Homo sapiens: one gene and its partner. The protein of the gene in region 1 interacts with the protein of each later gene in a pairwise test. Each region holds a gene or a part of one and is shown on either strand. Other genes may lie near its edges. The genes, in order: BUB1B-PAK6 and RHOV.

What was found.
Region 2: the proteins of BUB1B-PAK6 (region 1) and RHOV interact in binary tests that used the Homo sapiens proteins (3 or more experiments, as listed by UniProt).

Annotation. Positions count from the first base shown.
Region 1 is NC_000015.10:40,212,464-40,220,427, forward strand, and holds the start of BUB1B-PAK6 (serine/threonine-protein kinase PAK 6), read left to right. Parts: upstream 1-4,964; 5' UTR 4,965-5,032; coding exon of another isoform or gene 5,033-5,204; intron 5,205-5,992; coding exon of another isoform or gene 5,993-6,099; intron 6,100-7,964. Other genes in the region: BUB1B (mitotic checkpoint serine/threonine-protein kinase BUB1 beta), read left to right, coding at 36-185, 869-1,011, 5,033-5,204, 5,993-6,099. UniProt on the Homo sapiens protein: Serine/threonine protein kinase that plays a role in the regulation of gene transcription. The kinase activity is induced by various effectors including AR or MAP2K6/MAPKK6.
Region 2 is NC_000015.10:40,868,022-40,883,063, forward strand, and holds RHOV (rho-related GTP-binding protein RhoV), read right to left. Parts: upstream 6,214-15,042; 5' UTR 6,119-6,213; coding exon 5,911-6,118; intron 5,903-5,910; exon of another isoform or gene 5,722-5,902; coding exon 5,663-5,721; intron 5,481-5,662; coding exon 5,037-5,480; 3' UTR 4,193-5,036; downstream 1-4,192. UniProt on the Homo sapiens protein: Plays a role in the control of the actin cytoskeleton via activation of the JNK pathway.

The DNA of each region.
Region 1 (7,964 bases):
AACTGAACTTATTTTTAAAATACAATGTCTTACAGGTATCTTCTCAACCTGTCCCATGGGACTTTTATATCAACCTCAAGTTAAAGGAACGTTTAAATGAAGATTTTGATCATTTTTGCAGCTGTTATCAATATCAAGATGGCTGTATTGTTTGGCACCAATATATAAACTGCTTCACCCTTCAGGTCTGTAATACTAAAAACATAATTTAAAGTCCTGAAGTAGAGAGATTTGTGCTCCATTTAGCAAAGGAATTTAGTACAAAATTCCTGTCAATCTTCTAGAAATAGACCAATTCAAGTATAAGTTAGAAGCATTGATAATTTTCTCGTTATTTTGACCAAAGATCTCTTTGGTATTTTTTTAACTTTTTTTGGTCCGTTGTCAAGCATAAATAAAAGTAGAATTGTACAATGAACTCCCATGAACTAGTCATCTATGATAATCTTAGCTCATGGTCACTCTTGTTTTAGCTATACTACCCCCACTGGATAGTTTTTAAAACCCAGACACAATATGTCATTTTACTCTTCGGTTTGTTCTTAAGAAGGTTTGCTATGGATTTTGATGATAATATGAATTCTCAAAAATGGTTGGAATGAGGGTATTTTAAATCCATTTATTAAGTACCTATTTTGGGCCAGGCTCATGCTTGATGCCCTTCATCATTATGTCATTAAATCCTTACAAACAATCTTATGGGAGATGGCAGTGTTATTAAAACTGGGACATAGACTCAGTCTACAGAGGTGCCTACGTTCCAGTAGAGAACAAGGAAGACTACAAACCATCAGTTTTCAAGGTATTGAGTATAACTACGATCTGCCAAACTTGAGAAATAGTGAGTTTTCTGTCCTTCAATTTCCAGGATCTTCTCCAACACAGTGAATATATTACCCATGAAATAACAGTGTTGATTATTTATAACCTTTTGACAATAGTGGAGATGCTACACAAAGCAGAAATAGTCCATGGTGACTTGAGTCCAAGGTGTCTGATTCTCAGAAACAGGTTGGTCCTTTTCATTCTTATAATTCTGCCAGCTGTCTCTTAAAACATGGATAGTTGCCACTTTTTTTTTTCTTTTTTGAGGCGAGGGTCTCACTCTGTCACCTAGGTTGGAGTACAGTGGCATGATCTTGGCTCACTGCAGCCTCCATCTCCCAGGTTCAAACGATTCTCCCATCTTAACCTTGCTAGTAGCTGGGACCACAGGCGCGCACCACCACACCTGGCTAATTTTTTGTATTTTTTGGTAGAGATGAGGTTTCACCATGTTGCCCAGGCTGGTCTCAAACTCCTGGCCTCAAGTGATCTGCCCACCTCAGCCTCCCAAAGTGCTGGGATTATAGGCGTGAGCCACTGCACCCGGCCAAGTTGCCAATTTTTAAAGCCTTTTGATAAATGCCATATCGAGGAACATATTATGTTAAGAGAGTATTTACCTAAAAGTCAAAAATCATTAAGAATAGTTTAAAATAATTCAAAGAAATAAACACATTGAGGAAATAGATTAAATCAGATAAAAGAATTAATCACTGAGTATTGTGATGATATATGTCAAGATGAGATATAAAATATGAATATTTTGAGGAATATAAAGTGGATTGTTTAGTCATTCTTTGAGTGGGACCAGTGCCACTCTAGCGAGGATGCCAGCAAAATCAAGGCACTACTCAGTTTCATAGACCAAAGCTTAAGTCAGGCCTAACTGACCTGTTAGCCAAGAGAAGTGGGTAAAACCAGAGTTCAAATACAAACTATGCCAAGGAATGGGGTTTAGTGTTCAAATTAAACCCAGTGTGTCCATCAGGTTCAAGGGGTGAGCACAGAGCAGGAAATAATAAATGAATACTAAGGACTGAGAAAATATAGATCACGTTCAGGCATTAACTAGGCAAAAACAGTCCAACATTTTTGCTTTGTGAAAAGTACTAGAGGACTACTATATTCTTTTAGTGATCATTGGTGTTATAGTATTTGAGTAAAAGCAGCCTGGTTTAAAGATGCTGTGTCTGCCCAACCCTGTGTCTTGGGTGAGGTGTTAACTTTGTTTCTGAGGCCACTGGTATACACTAATAGCTGGACTTACTCTTTACATTTCTTCTGAATACTTAATCTATCAGAAGAGATTGAATTAGACTCTAAATTATAGTTAACGTGGAAATTAAAAGAACCCTCAATGTGTTCCTGTGATTGTAACCAAAAGAACCAGAGAATCCCACCTTCTCCCCTGAGATAGCAGAGTCAAAGGCTTTCCCAGACATAATGTAGCAGCATTTCTCATCCAGGGCACCATAGGTATTTTGGGTGAGACAATTCTTTGTGCAGGTGTGTTCCAAGCAATGCAGGATGTTTTATATTCCTATTCCCCCCCACCCACCCAATTAAGTGCAAGTAACAATCCCCTAAGCCGTTGTGACCACCAAAAATCCCCCCAAATTTCCAAGTATGAGAACCCCTGGTATATTTTCACTCTACTTAACATTAAAATGACAGTGCTGAAATTCCCAGGGCTATGGAAATTGGAAGCAGAGGTTTTTTCTAAGCCTTTTAGAATTGGCCATTTGTGGTCTAATGAAGTACGATAACCCTTCTCTCAGCCACTAGAGGCTCTAGGAAAGTCCATAGTATTAAAGAGGCATTGCTTTTTACTTTGTCACTGCTTATCAAATTTAATCAGAAATTTCACATAGATTCATAAGGAATTAAAAGCCAGAAAGGGGCCGAGCACAGTGGCTCATGCCTATAATCAATCCCAGCACTTTTGGAGGCTGAGGCGGGCAGATCACCTGAGGTTGGGAGTTCAAGACCAGCCTGACCAACATGGAGAAACCCCATCCTACTAAAAATACAAAATTAGCCAGGTATGGTGGTGCATGCCTGTAATCCCAGCTACTTGGGAGGCTGAGGAAGGAGAATTGCTTGAACTCAGGAGGCAGAGGTTGTGGTGAACTGAGATCGCACCATTGTACTCCAGTCTGGGCAACAAGAGCAAAATTCTGTCTCAAAAAAAAAGCCAGAGGCCGGGCGCAGTAGCTCACGCCTGTAATCCCAGCATTTTGGGAGGCCGAGGCGGGCGGATCACGAGGTCAGGAGATCAAGACCATCCTGGCTAACACAGTGAAACCCTGTCTCTACTAAAAATACAACAAGATAGCCAGCCGTGGTGGCAGGTGCCTGTAGTCCCAGCTACTCAGGAGGCTGAGGCAGGAGAATGGCGTGAACCCGGGAGGCAGAGCTTGCAGTGAGCCAAGATCATGCCACTGCACTCCAGCCTGGGTGACAGAGCGAGACTCCATCTCAAAACAAAACAACAACAAAAGCCAGAAAGGGCTGGATGCAGTGGTTCACATCTGCAATCCCAGCACTTTGGGAGGCAGAGGCAGGAGGATCTCTTGAGGCCAGGAGTTCAAGACCAGCCTGGTCAACATAGCAAGACCCTGTCTCTACAAAAATAAAATAAAAGCCAGAAAGAACCTTTTGAAATTGCTTAGTTTAGTTGCTTACTTTAGTTTCTGCATATTTTTTGTGAGGAAAATGAGATCCAAAAAAATGGAATGTCCTACCCAAAGTAACAGTGAGTGAGTAGCTGATTAGAGGGCTAGGACACCTTCATGCATGCTTCTTTTTATTAATCTATGAGACATTTTTTCCCTATGCCTCCAAAGTTATATAAATATTTTACAATTACACTGGGCATGGTGACTCACATCTGTAATCCCAGCACTTTGGGAGACCAAGGCAGAGGATCACTTGAGCCTAGGAGTTCAAGACCAGTCTGGGCAATATAATGAGACCTCATCTCTACAAAAAATTAAGAAATTAGCCAGGCATGGTGGCACACACCAGTAGTCCCAGCTACTCGGGAGGCTGAGATGGGAGGATCGCTTGAACCTAGGAGGCAGAGACTGCACTGAGCTGAGATCGCACCACTGTACTCCAGCCTCAGTGACAAGAGTGTAGACCTTGTCTAAGAAACCAAACAAAACACACACATGCACACACTTTACATATATATATAAAATACATATGTATATTTTATATATATCAGAATCCACGATCCCTATAACTATATATATACTATATATATATATATATATATATATTTTTTTTTTTTTTTAATTATAGTATAGTTTTATGGTGGCCAAAAAAGGTTGGCTCTTGTGCCAAGGAAAAATGAGAGCAATTATCAATTTTAAAGTAAAATACATAGATCATTCTGTGCCGTGGAGGTATGTAATTGGAGTAGTTAAAGACTGTATTTAGGAATATTGCACCAATATCAGGAGTTTGAGGGAATTAATTGAGAAAAACAGACAAAAGGAACACATGAAAACCCACTCTTTTCATTTATAAACAGTTCCTATGTCCCCTTGGAGAATAGCATTATTGCATAGGATAGATAAACCCAAGGAAAACAAAATTAATTGATAATTAATTAGTATTATAAAGATTTTTTTAGTAAATAACTGGAATTACAAGTAAGAGTAAGATAAAATATGGTGTTTTACAAGAAATTTTACAATACAGATAGGACTTTATAAAACAGACTTGCATTGTTTTCCATTAAACTCTGGAAGGAAGAATCTAAACAATACTTGGAAAGCCTATCTGGAATAGTAAACAAGAAAGGCTATGACACCTATAAAATTTTAATTTCCTCCATCATAATTCCTGTCAGTGTATAAATCATTGCAATTGTATGTGTTAATGTGTACAGTACAGGGAAGAAGCCTGTGCTCTGCTTCCATACTTACTTTATATAATATGGAAGCTTGATAAATGTTTAATGGTGGCCATGCACCGTGATTGAAATATACTTTGTGTCACCAAAGTGGTGACATTCCTTCCGCATTGGGTGGACACTGCCACTGCTCTGTCTTACAGGTGCATTTTCAAAATTAACCACTGGAGGGAGTTGTTGGCATAGCTAAGATGTACCCAAGGTACCTTTTTTTTTTAAAGACCAGCTATGCAGCTTCTTTCATGGCCTATTTTTATTATCTCCTTCTCTTAAATCTGGGCTCAGAATCCACGATCCCTATGATTGTAACAAGAACAATCAAGCTTTGAAGATAGTGGACTTTTCCTACAGTGTTGACCTTAGGGTGCAGCTGGATGTTTTTACCCTCAGCGGCTTTCGGACTGTACAGATCCTGGAAGGACAAAAGATCCTGGCTAACTGTTCTTCTCCCTACCAGGTAAGTGTAAAACAAGCCTGAGCAAATATGGAGAGGGTTTCTTAATCTCTTTATTATCTAGATAAGCTATAAAAGCTACTGTTTACTGATACCGACTCCTAGAATAGATGACCTAGTTTTCAAATATCACCAAGTCAAGTAAAATGTAACATTTTTGTGTTACAGCATTGAAGAATATACACATACATGTGCAAACACATGACTAACTCTGTAACCGAGTGCCAGGGCCACTCCTACTGCCTACCACCCATGTAATCTTTTATAAGTCATTTTCTGTGATCTTCTCTGTAAAATAGGGATAACAGTCTCTGCTATGTGTTTATCAGAATTGTTATGAGGAGTAAATGAAGTAATGTATATAAAAAGAACATTAGCACAAATGTAAAGTCTTTTGTATGGTGGCATTATATGCAGAAATTCCTTCTAACTCAGCTTTAGACATAAGACATTTGCTGATTGAATATGTAGCACAAACCTGAACTAATCATGTGGACCCCATTTAGATCACAGCTGGAGTTCATGCAAACTCAGTAGGTCTACAAATTTGAATGTGATAGTCCAAATATTTCATCTTTTGTTCTTAAGGATAATTCCTAGAATTGGCTCTATTGATCACTTCTTTGGAGAGCTTCTCCCTTTACTGTAAGGGTGAGGAACAGTCTACTAAAATGTATGTCATAAAATAAACTTAGTTAAGCACTGTAATACCTTTCAACTTCCTACCGAAATAAGCTGCCATGGTAGAGGCAGAGAATTATTTTAGCTGATGGTGCTTTTTGTGATTTCAGGTAGACCTGTTTGGTATAGCAGATTTAGCACATTTACTATTGTTCAAGGAACACCTACAGGTCTTCTGGGATGGGTCCTTCTGGAAACTTAGCCAAAATATTTCTGAGTAAGTATTGATGAATGTCAGGGTCTCTGCCTGTCCCAATAATTTTCTGTTTCTCTTGGGTGCTATCTCTGCTTTGGCAGCCTTAGTTTTTTAATCCAAATGCCATGGTTCCAGTAGTTTCAGCCAGTTTTCATTAGAGTATCAGCAGAGCAGCTAGTGCAGGAAAAAGGAACTGCTTACTAAAAATAAGATTCAAAACTATTCAGACTTCAGGACATCATTCTGAATCTAGCTGTATCTTCCAGACTACAGCTATAGTATGGAAGCTTCCCTGTTTAGATATGTGAAAAGAAGCATTTCATGAGAATAATTTTCTAACTAATTGGTGTTAGCCTTAAATTCCTTTTTCTTTATTTATTTATTTTTTGAGACGGAGTCTCGCTCTGTTGCCCAGGCTGGAGTGCAGTGGCATGATCTCGGCTCACTGCAACCTCTGCCTCCCAGGTTCAAGTGATTCTCCTGCTTCAGCCTCCTGAGTAGCTGGGATTACAGGCGTGCGCCACCATGCCTGGCTCATTTTTGTATTTTTAGTAGAGATGCGGTTTCACTACGTTGGCCAGGCTGATCTCGAACTCCTGACCTTGTGATCCGCCCGCCTCGGCCTCCCAAAGTGCTAGGATTACAGGTGTGAGCCACCGTGTCTGGCCTAAATTCCTTTTTAATAGCAATTATTACCAAAAGTTAATAAGCATCCTTTGAAAAGACTTACATTTCTAAACTATATGCTAATTTTAGGCTATTTTTTATTTAATAAGTGGATAGAACCAAACCAGATAACTGACTCTCCTGGAGAAGAAGTAAGTGGTCTCTTAATAAGCACTGCTTGGTCTCAGAACCTTAGTACTCCCTCAAGCCTGCTCATAAAACTTACTAAGTCAGCCGGGCATGGTGGCTCACACCTGTAATCACAGCACTTTGGGAGGCCGAGGCAGATTACCTGAGGTCAGGAGTTTGAGAGCAGCCTGGGCAACATGGCGAAACCTTGTCTCTACTCAAAATACAAGAAAATTAGCTGGGTGTGGTGGCACATGCCTGTAATCCTAGCTACTTGGGAAGCTGAGGCACGGGAATCACTTGAACCTGGGAGGCAGAGGTTGCAGTGAGCTGAGATCGCGCCACTGCACTCCACCCAGGGCAACAGAGTGAGACTCCGTCTCAAAAAAAACTAAGTATCTACGTTCCACTTTAGCTTATCTTAGCAAATAAGTTCCCAGCCTGTCACCTATTGTTATATTCTTTGGTTAAAAAAAAAAATGAGTGTTGAAGATTTAATGCCCCTTCTCTATTTTCATCTTTGAATAATTGAATTGTACTTTTCTCTTCATTTAATTCAGAACTTGGCCAGTGTTGTCTCTTACATGAACTTTTAAAAATAGGCTTGAAATACAATGTAAGACATATAGGATGGATATAGGCATGTCCACTTGGCTATGGTCCAGGCAGGTCTGGCTAACACAAGCAGAAACAAGTGGGGTCAGTTGGGGTTTCCTAACAGCCCTGCCTTATCTAATAAGGGAAGTTTCTCTGATCAAAAGAAAATAATAAGAAGCAAAGGTACAAACATATTAAGCAGTAGTTAGTTTAGTCAAGCTTACGATTATCAGAGAATTGTAAAGAAGATCCACTACTGGGGTAGGAGAAAGGAGCTGTAGCCTTTTTAATGACCTAGACTCTAGGAAAGTTAGAGGAAATAAAATTCCTTTTTCTTCTATTTGTAGAAGAAAAGTGCTATGTCTTAGTACACAGAGGAAATTTATAGATTTAGATGAGAGATCTTCTTTCCCTTTATGTGCATTGTATCTTGGCTTTTCCCACTATGGTAGCCCTTTTTTGTAGTTCTTCCCTGGGCTTTCAAAGGACTATTT
Region 2 (15,042 bases), 660 kb from region 1:
GTTGGCCAGGCTGGTCTCGATCTCCTGACCTCGTGATCTGCCTGCCTCGGCCTCCCAAAGTGCTGGGATTACAGGCATAAGCCACTGCACCCGGCCTAGAATACTTTTTAAGATTTTTTAATCTTCTAAATCTTTGGATTTTCTAATTTTTATAAGTATTTATTATGGAAAAAAAGACATTATTTTTAAAAAATCTAGCCAGGTGAGGTGGCTCACACCTGTAATCCCAGCAATTTGGGAGGCCAAAGCAGAAGGATCACCTGAGCTCAGGAATTAGAGACTAATCTGAACAACATAACTACACCCCATCCCTACAAAAAAAAAATTGTTGAATTAGGTGTGTACCTAATGGTAGTGCACATCTATAGTTCTAGCTACTTGGGAGACTGAGACAGAAGCATTGCTTGAGCCTAGGAGTTCAAGGCTGCAGTGAGCCATGATCACACCACTGCACTCTAGCCTGGATGACAGTGCAAGACCCTGCCTCAAAAAAATGGAAAACGGCTGGGTGCCATTGCTCACACCTGTAATCCCAGCACTTTGGGAAGGTGAAGTGGGTGGATCACTTGAGGTCAGGAGTTCGAGATCAGCCTGGCCAACGTGGTGAAACTCTGTCTCTACTAAAAATACAAAAATGAGCTGGGCCTGGTGGTGCACGCCTGTAATCCCAGCTACTTGGGAGGCTGAGGTAGGAGACTCACTTGAACCTGGGAGGCGGAGGTTGCAGTGAGCCGAGATCATGCCACTGTACTCCAGCCTGGGCGACAGAGTGAGACTCTGTCTCAAAAAAAAAAAAAAAAAATTAGCTGGATGTGGTGGTGGATGCCTGTAATCCAAGGTACTTGGGAGGCTGAGGCAGGAGAATTGCTTGAACCCAGGAGGCGGAGGCTGCAGTGAGCCAAGATTGTGCCACTGTACTCCAGCCTGGGTGACAGAGTGAGACTCCATCTCCAAAAAAAAAAGAGAGCTGGGTGCAGTGGCTCATGCCTGTAATCCCAGCACTTAGGGAGGCTGAGGTGGGCAGATCACGAGATCGGGAGATCAAGACCATCCTGGCTAACATGGTGAAACCCCGTCTCTACTAAAAATACAAAAAATTAGCCAGGCGTGGTGGTGGGCACCTGTAGTCCCAGCTACTCGGGAGGCTGAGGCAGGAGAATGGCGTGAACCCGGGAGGTGGAGCTTGCAGTGAGCCGAGATGGCGCCACTGCACTCCAGCCTGGGCCACAGAGCGAGACTCCGTCTCAAAAAAAAAAAAAAAAAAAAACAGAAAGAAAGAAAAAATTGAAAAAAATCAACTAAGGGTTACACAGACATTAAAAGCAATTTATATTGATAAGGACATATGTAAGAATGTATATGTAAGAAACATATAATTTTATCCAATTCATATAATAAATATTCCTTTAAATATAATTTAAAAGAGCAGAGAAAAGGGAAAAGAGGCCAAGGAAACAGACAGAGAGATAAAAACAAAAAAACTACCCCAGAAAAGTAGGTACCATATTCTAGAGAAAGAGACAGAACCAAAGAGAACCAGTGGATTCGGAAGCAGAAGCGAATCCCTCTTGTCCTGCACAGGCTTGGGGCCAGAGCCTTAGAGGTCCTTTCCAGCAAGCTGTTGACATTAGGCCTCAGTCTTCAAGCTCCAAATCTGGAGCTAAACTTAATCCTCCCAGCCTCTCCAGGGCTCACTGGCTGGCTTTTTATTCCTAAGCATTTCAGGGTCAGCAGCAAACATTGCCTGAGCCCCAGACCTTGTGGGAGCAAAAGGAACTTAAACGTGGCTCTCTCTCTCTCTTCATTTAGCTGGGAAGATGCAGGCTGAGTCAGTCGCAGAACGCCCAGTGTCCTCAGTGTGCCAAGGGAGCAGTGAAGACACTGATACAGGTAAGCATCTGTTCTGGAGGAGGGAGGTATTGAAAGCTGGTTATCATGAGGAGAAATGGGGCATCTGGGAGGTGACAGGGAGCTCTTTCCAAACTAGGGGATCTGGCACAAGCCAAGACTGGGAGTCAGGAAGTCGGAAATAGCTGGGGATCACCAGAGCGAGCTGGCCTGGTCCAGGGTGCTGTCAGATTTGAGAGGGCCTTGAATGCTGAAATGAGGAGCTGGAAGTTCATCATCAACAGTGAGAGCCAGTAACAGTCTTGAGCCTTGAGTTGGGGGATGCCAGAGTGAACACAGCAGCACGGGACAGATTGGAGTGGGGAGCTGCAGTGGCAGGGACCTTGGGGTGTGGGTGACAGAGGTCCTGACCAGACTTGGAGACCCAGCAAGAGAGGAGGCATGGTGACCGAGGTTTCAATTTGGGTGACATGGATATACTAGTACCACAAGAGAGAATTAGGGAAGAAGTTGGAGGTGGGGGCGGGTACAAGGATAACCCCCTTGTGGGGGATGATCCCCACCCCAAGGCACGTCCAAGGCCCCTCAGAACAAGTTTAAGAACCTCAAACCCAGTCTGAGTCCTGAGTCCTTCATTTTTCAAATGAAGACTGAGGCATAGAGAAGGGAAATTATTTGCCTAAGGTCATGGTTGGTGTCAGAGTCTGAACTTGAACCCAGGTTTCTGCCCCAGAGGGGAGTGTGTCAGGCTGGGTTGAGGTAACAACAGGCCATGCTGCTGGGGTGTGAGACCCTCAGCACCTCCACCTGAAGGGTAAAGGGAACAGAAGGAGCTCCAGTTGGCTGGAGCTCTGGGGACAGGCCCTGGTGGGGCAGGAAGTGGACAGTCTTGGCTAAAACTAAACTTGGGGATTATCTGAAGTTTCACTTGGCTGGGATTTCTGTCCCTCAGCCATGCTCTTTCACACACACAGACACAGACAGAGACAGACAGACAGACAGACATACACACACACACACACACAGACACACACACACAGCTGTAGCTTCCTGCAGAGGGAGATGGGCTCAGAGGTGGGCTGGGCCAGGGCATGAGTGCTCATCTGACCCAGCAGCTGCCTAGCAGGTGTGCCAGGTGTGCCTCAGAAATTCCTCTCCCAGCTGAGCCCAGTGGCTCACACCTGTAATCCCAGAACTTTGGGAGGCTGAGGCAGGCAGATCACAAGGTCAGGAGTTCGAGACCAGCCTGACCAACATGGTGAAACCCCATCTCTACTAAAAATACAAAAATGAGCCAGGCATGGTGGCGCACACCTGTAATCCCAGCTACTCAGGAGGCTGAAGGAGGAGACTCGCTTGAACCCAAGAGGCAGAGGTTGCACTGAGCCAAGATCACGCCACTGCACTCCAGCCTGGGTGAAAGAGCGAGACTCTACCTCAAAAGAAAAAGAAAGAAAGAAATTCCTCTCCCAGAGTAACACATACCCCTGTATCCAACTCTAGAGTTTGCAAAGTGCTCTTACAGTCACTGGGTGATACATATCATTTAAGCTATTACCTTTTCTGTCTGGTCCTCAGTCTCCTTATGGTAAAGTAAGTTTTGTTTTGTTTCATTTTCTCCCTGGGTGTCCTTCAAAGTCCCTTCAAGCTCCAACATGAGGGAATGTTCTCCAGATCCCTGCTCCTCTCCAAGTCCTCTCCCAATGAACTCGCTCTTGCACAGGATACTTGGGGATAAACCTCTATTTAAATTGTTCACAAGCAGCACCCTGACCTTCACTAGCTCCTTAGGTGCCAAGGCTGAAGACTGGGTCCAACCCAAGTCTAAGAACTTTGGCCAGTGATTGAGGTTTAGGCTGTATGGGTTCCCTTTATGTTCAGGCTGTGAATAGAGGTCGGAGGGGGGGATGGTCCCCTAACCTGAGCCCCAGGGCCCTGTGAACTGCCAGAAGGAACAGAGCAGAAAAGTTAGAAGGCTGGGGACTGACCTTGAGCTCCAGTGCTGAGCATGGTGCTCTAGAAAGGAGGGGTGGAGGGGAGGGGCTCCACCCACCAGGTGAGGTCATGGGAAACCAGCTCTGGCGCTGACACCTGGGGAAACCCGTTTCCAGGCCGCTTCCCACGCTAGCTCTCCTGGGAACCAGCTGAGCCCCAAGCGGGGAGCTCCACACCTACCCCCACAGTCCAGTTCCCATTACACTGCCCCCACCCCCAGTCCAGCCCCCACCTTTCAATCTAGCCTCAGTCCTTTGGTCCCCAATCTGTCTCTAGCCAGGCAGTTAGGCCTTGAGGAGGGTTCTGAGGGAGGAGTGGGCTCCAGGAAATGACAGAGACAACGCACGCCTTCACAGACTTAAGGTTTTATTTGCAGACTCTGCACTGCTCTAGCTTCTAGGCTGTGTGACCTTGAGGAAAGGGATGATCCCCAACCCGGTCCTCCTTCAGGTTCTAATTTGCAGCTCCTCCCCCTCCTTTTGCTGGGCCTTGACTCTCACTTCCTGCCCCACTCCTGGCTCAGCCAGTTTGGGCAGTGCCTAGGGAGCCCAGAGACCCAGTTCTTCCCAGGGGCCAGCCCCGCCCTCCCTGGCCTTGGGGATTGAGGGCAGCCCAGGTGTCAGCCTGCTCCTCATCCACCCCACTTCCCTCTCTCCTCCTCCTCGTCATCTTCTTTCCAGGCCTTATCCACCATCAGTCCCAGGCTCCAAGACCTCTTTTCCTGCTCGCTCTCTCAATCTCTCGCCCACTCCATCCCAAACTTCTCTCCAAATCGGGGTTGAGCCCCTTCCAGCCCTCCATAATGCCAAGCGTTCCCCAAGCTCTTTCTCACCCCTGTGCCAAGGAAGGGTCCTAATTCAGCCAGGCTGACCTGAGGGCCCAGGACAAGAAACTGGGTTCCCAAACTGCTCGGAGGTGACTGACCCTGTTAGGACCATCCCATGAAAATCAAAGTGCCAGGTTTTTTTCTGTGAGCTTTGACTGGAGAAATCCAAATCAGAGCCTTCCCTCCTAGGCTCACCCAGGCATATCAGAGTGGGCAGTTAGAGGCCCATGTCCCCCGAGTGTTCAGAAGGGAACTGAGTCCTATGAGGTGGCCAGGCCCTGCCAGTAGCTGCCGCAAAGGCCCGGGTGCCCCAGGTCTCAGAAGTCTTTGGCCTCCTGCCTACTACTTGCTATGCAGCCATAGCTGCTCAAACGAAGCAGAAGAACTTCTTCCAGCGGCAGCGGGAGAGGGTGCGCACACCTTTGGCATTCAGTTTCTTCTCCAGCCGGGCTTTGTGCTCAATGGCACTGAGAATAGCCGAGTCAAATACTTCCTTCAAGTTCTTCTGCGTCAAGGCTGAGCACTCAAGGTAGCAGCAGGCTCGGATCTTCTCGGCCAGACCCTGAGCCTGGGGTTGGGGCACGGGGCCCTCCCGGCCCCCCTGGTCCAGCTGAATTAGTACGTTGACATCGTCCCTCAGGTCGGCCTGGGTGCCCACCAGCAGCACAGGCGCCTGGGGGTTGTGCGTGCGGATCTCGGGCAGCCATTTCTCTGTGATGTTTTGAAAGGAGCTGGGCTGCACCACGCTGAAGCACGCCAGGAAGACATCGGTATCCGGGTAGCAAAGGGAACGAAGTCGGTCAAAATCCTCCTGGGGTGGGAAGGCCAGGTGGTAAGGATTAGCCCCCCGACACATGGAATCCATTTCTCACCCGGGGCTGGAAACCTGAGACTCCAAGAGCCCAAGGCTTTCTCCATTTGCTCCATATGGGGTCCTCCCAGCCTCCAGCCCATCTCCCCGCAGACCAGTAGAGGCCGCGCCCAGCTTCTCACCTGTCCCGCTGTGTCCCAGAGCTCAATGCGCACCGGAGCTCCATCCACCAGGACTTGCACTGCAGGGGCGGGGCGGGGAGAGCCTGAGTTAGGAAGAGCGTCCTGGGCCGCACCAGCGCCACCTCGGGGCCTGCTCCAGTCTCCTCCCCGGGGTCCTCTGCGCCCTCCCGCCGAGACGCCCGCCCCAGCTCCCCGGTGCACAGCCCCGCCGCAGCCACGCGGCCGCACGGGCGATTGAACGTACGTACCAGAGAAGGTGTCCAGCGCAGTGGGCCGGTAGCGCGCGGGGTACCCATTGCAGGTGTAGCTGACGATGAGGCTGCTCTTGCCCACGGCGCCGTCGCCCACCAGCACGCACTTGATGCCCAGCTCTGGGGGCGCGCTACGCCGCCGCGGGGGAGGGGTCGGGGCCCGGAGCGGGGGCGGCTCGGCCTCGCTCAGCTCCCGCGGCGGCATGGCCCGCTCCGGGGGCAGCAGAGGGGCCAGCCCGGGTCTCGGCTTCGCTGCGCTCGGTGAAGCAGGTCCCGCTGGCTGCCTCTGACTGAATGGGTCCAGGCTGGGCGAGTCGGCCCAGCGCTACCAGCGGGTTTGTGTAGGGCCCCGCCCATCTCATCTACATGTTTCAGGCGGCCCCGGACCCCACCCATCGGCGAAGATCTCCCGCGGCCAGGCACCCTGCGAGGCCAGGCGAGGAGGAGGAAAACCCCGGGAGGAGGAAAGGCAGGCAGAAAGCTGGAGCTCCAAGAGTCACGCAGGTACAAGGACAAAGAATCGTCAAATGAGAATACCAAGAAGAGATAGACATCCATGATTTATTGTTAGGAGGAAGAAGCAAGTTGCAGAACATATAATACAGTATGTTCAGGTTAAACAAGTGTGCAAATTAAACCTTGTTCAACTTACAAGAAACAACTCTATGCATATGTTTGCATGAGTATTAAAAAGTTGGGATAATTTTATTAATGAAAGAATTACTTTTTTAAATATTGAGGCTGAGAGCAGTGGCTCATGCCTGTAATTCCAGCGTTCTGGGAGGCTAAGCCAGGAGGATCACTTGACCCCAGGAGTTCAAGGTTACAGTGAGCTATAATAGTGCCATTGCACTTCAGCATGTGTGACAGATCCTAAAAACAAACAAACAAACAAAAAACCTGTTGACCCCTGAACAAAGCGGGAATTATGGGCGAGAAACCCTGTGCAGTCAGCCGAAAATCCCTATATAACTTTTGACTACCCCAAAATTTAACTATTAATAGCCTGCTGTTGCTGGGCTCCGTGGCTCACGCCTGTAATCCCAGCACTTTGGGAGGCCGAGGTGGGTGGATCACCTGAGGTCAGGAGTTCGAGACCAGCCTGGCCAACATGGTGAAACCCCGTCTCTATTAAAAATACAAAAAATTAGCCAGGTGTGGTGGCGGGTGCCAGTAATCCTAGCTACTCAGGAGGCTGAGGCAGGAGAATCACTTGGACCTGGCAGGTGGAGGTTGCAGTGAGCCAAGATTGGGCCACTCCACTCCAGCCTGGGTGACAGAGCAAGACTCTCTCTTAAAAAACAAAAACAAAAAACCCCCCAAAAAAAGTAGCCAAGCATGGTGGTGTGCATCTGTAATCCCAGCTACTCGGAGGCTGAGGTGGGAGGATGGCTTGAACCTGGGAGGTGGAGGTTGCAGTGAGCTGAGATCATGCCATTGCACTCCAGCCTGGGCAACAGAGCCAGACTTTGTCTCAAAAATAAATAAATAAATAAATAAAAAATAGGCTGGGCGCAGTGGCTCACACCTGTAATCCCAGCATTTTGGGAGGCTGAGGCGGGCAGATCACATCACGAGGTCGGGAGATCCAGACCATCCTGGCTAACACGGTGAAACCCCGTCTCTACTAAAAATACAGAAAATTAGCCGGGCATGGTGGTGGGCGCCTGTAGTCCCAGCTACTCGGGAGGCTGAGGCAGGAGAATGGCGTGAACCCAGGAGGCGGAGCTTGAGTGGGCCGAGATTGCGCCACTGTACTCCAATCTGGGAGACGCAGCAAGACGCCATCTCAAAAAAAAAATAAAAATAAAAAAATAAAAAAGGCCGGGCGAGGTGGCTCACACCTGTAATCCCAGCTAATTTTTGTATTTTTAGTGGAGACGAGGTTTCACCATGTTGGCCAGGCTGGTCTTGAACTCTTGACCTCAGGTGATCCATCTGCCTCGGCCTCCCAAAGTGCTAGGATTACAGGTATGAGCCACCACGCCCAGGAGGCTTATCATATTTTCAAACTTTTTTCTTCTGACCTGTATCAGAAAGTTAGAATCATCGTAAAGGTCTGCACCCTTGTGGTCTCCAGTTGGGTAGGCTGAGGAGAAGGAGGAAAAGGAGTTGGTCTTGCTGCGTCAGGGGTGGCAGAGGTGGAGAAGGTGGAAGGGGAGGCAGGAAAGGCAGGCACACTTGGTATAACTTTTATCTATTTTTAGAGATGTGGTCTTGATCTGTTGCACAGTCTGGAGTGCAATGACGCGAGCATAGCTCACTGCAGCGTCCAAACTCCTGGCCTCAAGCAATCCCGCCCCAGCCTTCCAAGTAGCTGGGATTACAGGCATGCACCCCCAGGCCAGGCTACATTTTTTTAATTTTTTTTTTTTGTAGAGACAGTCTTGCTTTTTTGCCCAGGCTGGTCTTCAACTCCTGGCTTCAAGTGATCCTCAGGCCTCAGCCTCCCAAAGTGCTGGGATTAAAGGCATGACCCACCACACACGGCCCTCAGTGTAACTTTTATTGAAAAAATTCTGCCTAAAATGGACCTGTACAGTTCACACCCATGTTGTTCAAGGCTCAGCTGTATACAGATCATGAGAGAGGCAGAGAAACACAAGTGTGAATACAGCAGGCAGGAATGTACTGTACTCCTTTTCAGAGGAGAGCTTTCTCTAGACTCAGCCTGAAGGCAAGCTGTGAACACTTTCACTCCCCTCAGCTAAAGGAACTCAGGGTGCTGAGAAGCTAGCTGGGGAGGATCTTCAAGGACAATTTCCATTTGAATATTTTATAAATCTCCAAATACCTAATATTATCTCATCATCATCAAAAGCACATAATAATTACCTATCTGCAGATGCTGTTCTGGGCCACCCACTGCCCTTGCCCTAGAAGGAGTTTGCAGACTGAGACAATATCTCCCAGGTAGCCCTGGGAAGGTCACCTGGAGAGCAAGTGAAGAGTAGCCTGATGCTAATTTTGTCTCTTTATTGCAACCACACCAAGTGACACCAGGCCCAGAATCCTTTCTCTGATCTCTGACCCTTTCATCTCAGCCTATGCAAAGATCACAGAAAACACCGTCACCTTCAGGGAGTCAGCCATTCACGAGTTTTGGGAAAGGAGAATGTTGGGAGGGGGAGGGGCAGTGAATATTAAAAGAGATAATTCTATTTCTCCAAGAGCTGGTAGTATAAAAGCCATAAATCCGTCCAGGTGCGGTGGCTCACACCTGTAATCCCAGCACTTTGGGAGGCTGAGGTGGGTGGATCACTTGAGGTCAGGAGTTCGAGACCAGCCTGGCCAACATGGTGAAACCCCGTCTCTACTAAAAATACAAAAATTAGCCGGGCGTGGTGGTGGCGCCTGTAATCCCAGCTACTTGGGAGGCTGAGGCACAAGAATTGCTTGAACCTGGGAGGCAGAGGTTGCAAATGAGCCGAGATCGCGCCACTGCACTCCAGCCTGGGTGATAGAGCGAGACTCAGTCTAAAAAAAAAAAGCCATAAATCCAAACCAAATCTTTACATCTCTTAGAAAAAGTGACAGGTTCCCTGATTTTTCTTTTCTTTTTCTTTTTTTTTTTTTTGCCAGGGTCTCGCTCTGTGGCCCAGATCAACAGATTCAACCTCAGCTCACTGCAACCTTCACCTCCCAGGTTCAAGCGATTCTCCTGCCTCAGCCTCCCAAGTAGCTGGGACTACAGGTGCATGACACCATGCCTGGCTAATTTTTATATTTTTGGTAGAGACAGGGTTTCACCATTTTGGCCTGGCTGGTCTTGAACTCCTGAGCTTAAGCAATCCACCTTCCTTGGCCTCCCAAAGTGCTGAGATTTCTTGTTTTCTCTTTTTGAGCCCAAAGGAGAGGACTACAGCTAGAAAGATGACTTAATCATTAAAATCTCGACTATGGGGATGGGGAAATCGTAGGAGCCCCTGTAACCACTTCTACATGCCAATGTCTTCATCCTACATGCCATACCTCTGAATGTCTGGGGATGCTAATAATCCCTAATTGTAGCCCCAAGTCTCAAAAACTTCTCAGACACATCCACATAAGTTTATTCATCTAGCAAGTGAAAGAGGCCTTACCTGTTGTCCTGCCTTTGTATTCCTCTAGAAAGCCCAAAAGCTGTTGTATTTGCTCTCCTGGAAAAGGAGTGGCATTTTTTTTTTTTTTTTTTTTTTGAGACGGAGTCTCGCTCTGTCACCCAGGCCGGACTGCGGACTGCAGTGACGCAATCTCGGCTCACTGCAAGCTCCGCTTCCCGGGTTCACGCCATTCTCCTGCCTCAGCCTCCCGAGTAGCTGGGACTACAGGCGCCCGCCACCGCGCCCGGCTAATTTTTTTTTTGTATTTTTAGTAGAGACGGGGATTCACCTTGTTAGCCAGGATGGTCTCGATCTCCTGACCTCATGATCCACCCGCCTCGGCCTCCCAAAGTGCTGGGATTACAGGCGTGAGCCACCGCGCCCGGCCAGGAGTGGCATTTTAAAAGACCTGGACATCAGGAGACCTGTCCCAGTGTTCCCAGTTCTTCAGCTCACTAGCTGTGTGATGCCTACCAAATCACTTCATCTGTCTCAGTCCTATAAAATGACAGGTGAAGCATGTTTATCTCTGAAAGCCTTTCTGGTGCTAGCAATCTGTGATTCAGGGATCCCAGGGAAGCTGCCCCAGCCCAGGTGTCTGGGACAGAATTACTACACACGCGCGCACACACACACACACACACACACACACACACACACACACACACGCTCTTCTTTGCAGTGCTCTTGTTTTTTTACCTGGATTTTAATAATAGTTTAATTATAGCTGTAAATTTGAGGGTAATCCTGTTTCATCCTTTCTGCAGGCAGGAGGGGTGTAAATACACAAATTGGGGGAGATGTCTGCTTGGGCACAGGTAAAAGCCCTGATGTGGCCTGAGACAGGTCATTATTTTCTGGCCGCTTAGGTGGGGACACTTTCCAACCTAGGTCCCTCTGTCTGAGCTGGTTTAGGGGCAGTTTTGTCAGCAAGAGGGGGAGGGAGGAAACAACTTAAGGTGCTGATGAGTCACCTGTTTCTCAGAGAAGGACTTGCTGGGGAAGTTTGCAATTCTGGCTGCTACTGCTGGGAAACTCCCCTCCTAAGGGTAGGCTGGGTCTTATTCCTGCTGCCTGCCAGATCTTCTGCCCCAACTTCCAGCTAGACACACATTTGCTAGGATTAAAACTTGGCTCTGACATTCTCCATGGAGAAATAGCAGATTATAGGACTGGGGCAGGAAATATACAAGTCTATACCAATATAAATAAATAATTAAATACATAAATAAGTGAGACATGCCGGGCCTGGTGGCTCATTCCTTCAATCTCAGCACTTTGAGAGGCCAAGGCAGGAGGATTGCTTGAACCCAGGATTTCAAGACCAGCCTGGACAACATGGCAAAACCCAGTCTCAAAAAAAAAAAAAAAAATTAATGGGGCATGGTGGCATGCACCTGTAAGTCCCAGCTACTCAGGAGGCTGAGGTGGGAGGATCACCTGAGCCTGTGAGGTTGAGGCTGCAGTGAGCCACTGCACTCCAGCCTGTGTGACAGAGTGAGATTCTGCACCCCCTATCCCCCCACCGCAAAAAAAGGCAAAAAAAAAATAGTTTACTTAAAAAAAACCAAAAACTAAAAAACTCAACCATAGCCCTGACATTGAATCACGGCAGTAATATCTTGCCTCCAAAATGTCCATCACAGCTGTATATGGCTTTAGACTTGTAAAAGTGCTGCAGTCTGCCCTGTCTCATAAGAACCAAGTGACATGGCTTAGGAGAGGGGTGTGTCTGAGAAGGTGTGGCTGTGTGTGTGTGTGTGCGTGCGTGTGTCTATTCCCATTTTATCAGTGAGTATAGGGGACCTGCCCCAAGATGAAAGAAACTAGTAAGTGGCAGTCTGTTCCAGAATGAACAAGCCAACCACAGGTCCACCCTCAGGCGTGGTCAAGTTTTTTTTTTTTTTAAGATAGAGTCTGGCTCTGTCGGCCAGGCCACAGTGCAGTGGCAAGATCTTGGCTCACTACAACCTCTGCCTCCTAGTTCAAGCGATTCTCCTGCCTCAGCCTCCCAAGTAGCTAGGACTACAGGAGTGGACCACCACGCCCAGCTACTTTTTGTATTTTTAGTAGAGATGAGGTTTCACCATGTTGATCAGGCTGGTCTCGAACTGCTGACCTCAGGTGATCCACCTGCCTCGGCCTCCCAAAGTGCTGGGATTACAGGCATGAGCCACTGTGCCCAGCCAGTGTTGTCAAGTTTTATTAGGTATTTTTGTTAATTCCATATCTTAAGTTTACTGAAAACACTGGAATGCCTATAGCAAAACCTGGACAAGAATAAACCAAAAGAAACCAACCCCCTACCCTACCACCACAATTATTCCGCTGGCAAATAAGGGATTAACAAAAGAACACCACGGCCAGGCACGGTGGCTCACGTCTGTAATCCCAGCACTTTGGGAGGCTGAGGCAGGCAGATCACCTGAAGTCAGGAGTTCAAGAGCAGCCTGGCCAACATGGTGAAACCCTGTCTCTACTAAAAACACAAAAATTAGCTGGGCATGGTTGCATGCACCTGTAATCCCAGCTACTCCGGCAGCTGATGTAGGGAGAATTGCTTGAACCTGGGAGGCGGAGGTTACAGTGAGCTGAGATCACGCCACTGCACTCCAGCCTAGGAGACAGAGCGAGACTCCATCTCAAAAAAATTAAAAACAAAAACGAAAGAACACCAGTGGTGGGGAAAAGTTATTCCAAGGGCTCCATCCAGAGAGAGGTTGTTTTTGAGTGAATGCACTCTCATTGTCTTTTTCTGTTTCTTCTGCATACTCCAGTCCAAGACCCCCAAAATCAGGCCTGCTGCTTAGGATGAGCTCAGAGACTGAGATGGGCAGGTCAGAAAGCTTTGAAATAAAAACAGAATTCAAGAAAAAGAATTTTATATTTAACACTTGCTTACCAACATACTGATAATAATTATATATTATATATAACTTAATATATAATTATATATTATAATATAGTTATATGATACAATAATAATAATACAATAACTTGACTACCCACTTTCTGAGCTTTCAGTGGAAATTGGGCCACCATAGGTTTTTCTCTTCCTTTTTCTTTATTTTATGCATTTTATTTATTTTCTTTGTGGAGACAGAGTCTTGCTGTGTCACCCAGGCTGGAGTACAGTTGTGCGATCAGGGCTCACTGTAGCCTCGACCTCCCAAGCTCAAGTGATCCTCCTGCTTCAGCTTCCTCAGTATGTGGCACCACAGGTGCATGCTACCACACCTGTCTAACTTTTTAATTTTTTTGTAGATACTGGGTCACCCTATGTTTCCCAGGTTGTTCTCAAACTCCTGGGCTCAAGCAATCCTCCTGCCTCAGCCTCCCAAAGTCCTGGGATTATAGGGGTGAGCCACGACACCCAGCAACACAGATTTTTCTCTATTTCCATGTGCTTGTGTCCTTGGAGGGAGTTTGTGGCAAATTTACCCAGCTGGGCTGAGTTTGCCCCATGGTGCTGCTGGTCAACCCTTCAAGTCCATTTCCTCAGTCCCCACACCCTCTAGACCACCCTTGGGCTCAGGCTGGCTCCTGGACTTCTGTCCTGTCTTCCCTGCTCCCTCGCACCCAGACTTGGCCTCCGCTTCTCCCTTCATTTCTCTCCACCTCGCCATCCAGCTGATCCCACCGCTACTGCCCCCTTCCAACCTCTCTTTCCGCTCAGATCTTGCACCCAAGCCCTAGCTTTTTAAATGCCTGCAAGAGTTGCCACCTAAAACCTTTACCTAAAAAACTCCCCTACTAACTTCCTTATTTTCTCTTATTTTTATTTTATTTTTATTTTTGAGAGAGTCTGGCTCTGTCACCCACGCTGGAGTGCAATGGTGCAATCTCAGCTCCCTGCAACCTCTGCCTCCTGAGTTCAATTGATTCTCCTGCCTCAGCCTCCTGAATAACTGGGATTACAGGTGTGCACCACCACTCCTGGTTAATTTTTGTATTTTTAGTAGAGAGGCGGTTTCACCATGTTGGCCAGGCTGGTCTCGACCTCCTGAGCTCAAGTGATCTGCCTGCCTCGGCCTCCCAAAGTGCTGGGATTACAGGCGTGAGCCACCACGCTGGCTCTATTTAATTAATTAATTTATTTATTTATTATTATTATTATTTTGAGACGGAGTCTAGCTCTGTCGCCCAGGCTGGAGTGCAGTGGCACAATCTCGGCTTGCTGCAACCTCCACCTTCGGGTTCAAGAGATTCTCCTGCCTCAGCCTCCCGAGTAGCTGGGATTACAGGTGCCCACCACCACGCCCAGCTACTTTTTGTATTTTTAGTACAGACGGGGTTTCACTGTGTTGGCCAGGCTGGTCTCGAACTCCTGACCTCATGATCTGCCCACCTCGGCCTCCCAAAGTGCTGGGATTACAAGCGTTAGCCACCGCGCCTGGCCATTTATTTATTTATTTTTAGAGATGAGGGGTGTCTCGCTCATCTCTGGACTCAAACTCCTGGCCTCAAGAGATCCTCCTGCCTCAGTATCCTAAGTAGCTGGGATTACAGGCGTGCCCCACTGCATCCAGCACCTCAGTATGTTTTTGAGATTCACTCATGCTGTTGTGTATAAGAGTAGCTTGTTTTTTTGTGCTTTTTAATTTTTATTTTACTTATTCTTTTTTTAGAGATGGGGTCTCTGTTGCCAGGCTGGAGTGCAGTGACATGATCATGACTCCACTGCAGCCTTGAACTCCTGGGCTCAAGAATCCTCCTGCCTCAGCCTCCCAAGTAGCTGGGACTACAGGCACATGCCACCACACCCGGACAGTTCTTTTTTTTTTCTTTGCTGAGTAATATTCCATTATATGGATATACCACAGTTTGTTTATTTTTTTTTTTTTTTTTGAAATGTCGTTTTGCTCTTGTTGCCCAGGCTGGAGTGCAGTGGTGTGATCTTGGCTCACTGCAACCTCCTCCTCCCAGGTTAAAGTGATTCTCCTGCCTCAACCTCCCAAGTAGTTGAGATTACAGGAGCCTGTCACCACGCCCGGCTAATTTTTCTATTTTTGGTAAAGATGGGGTTTCCCCACGTTGGCCACGCTGG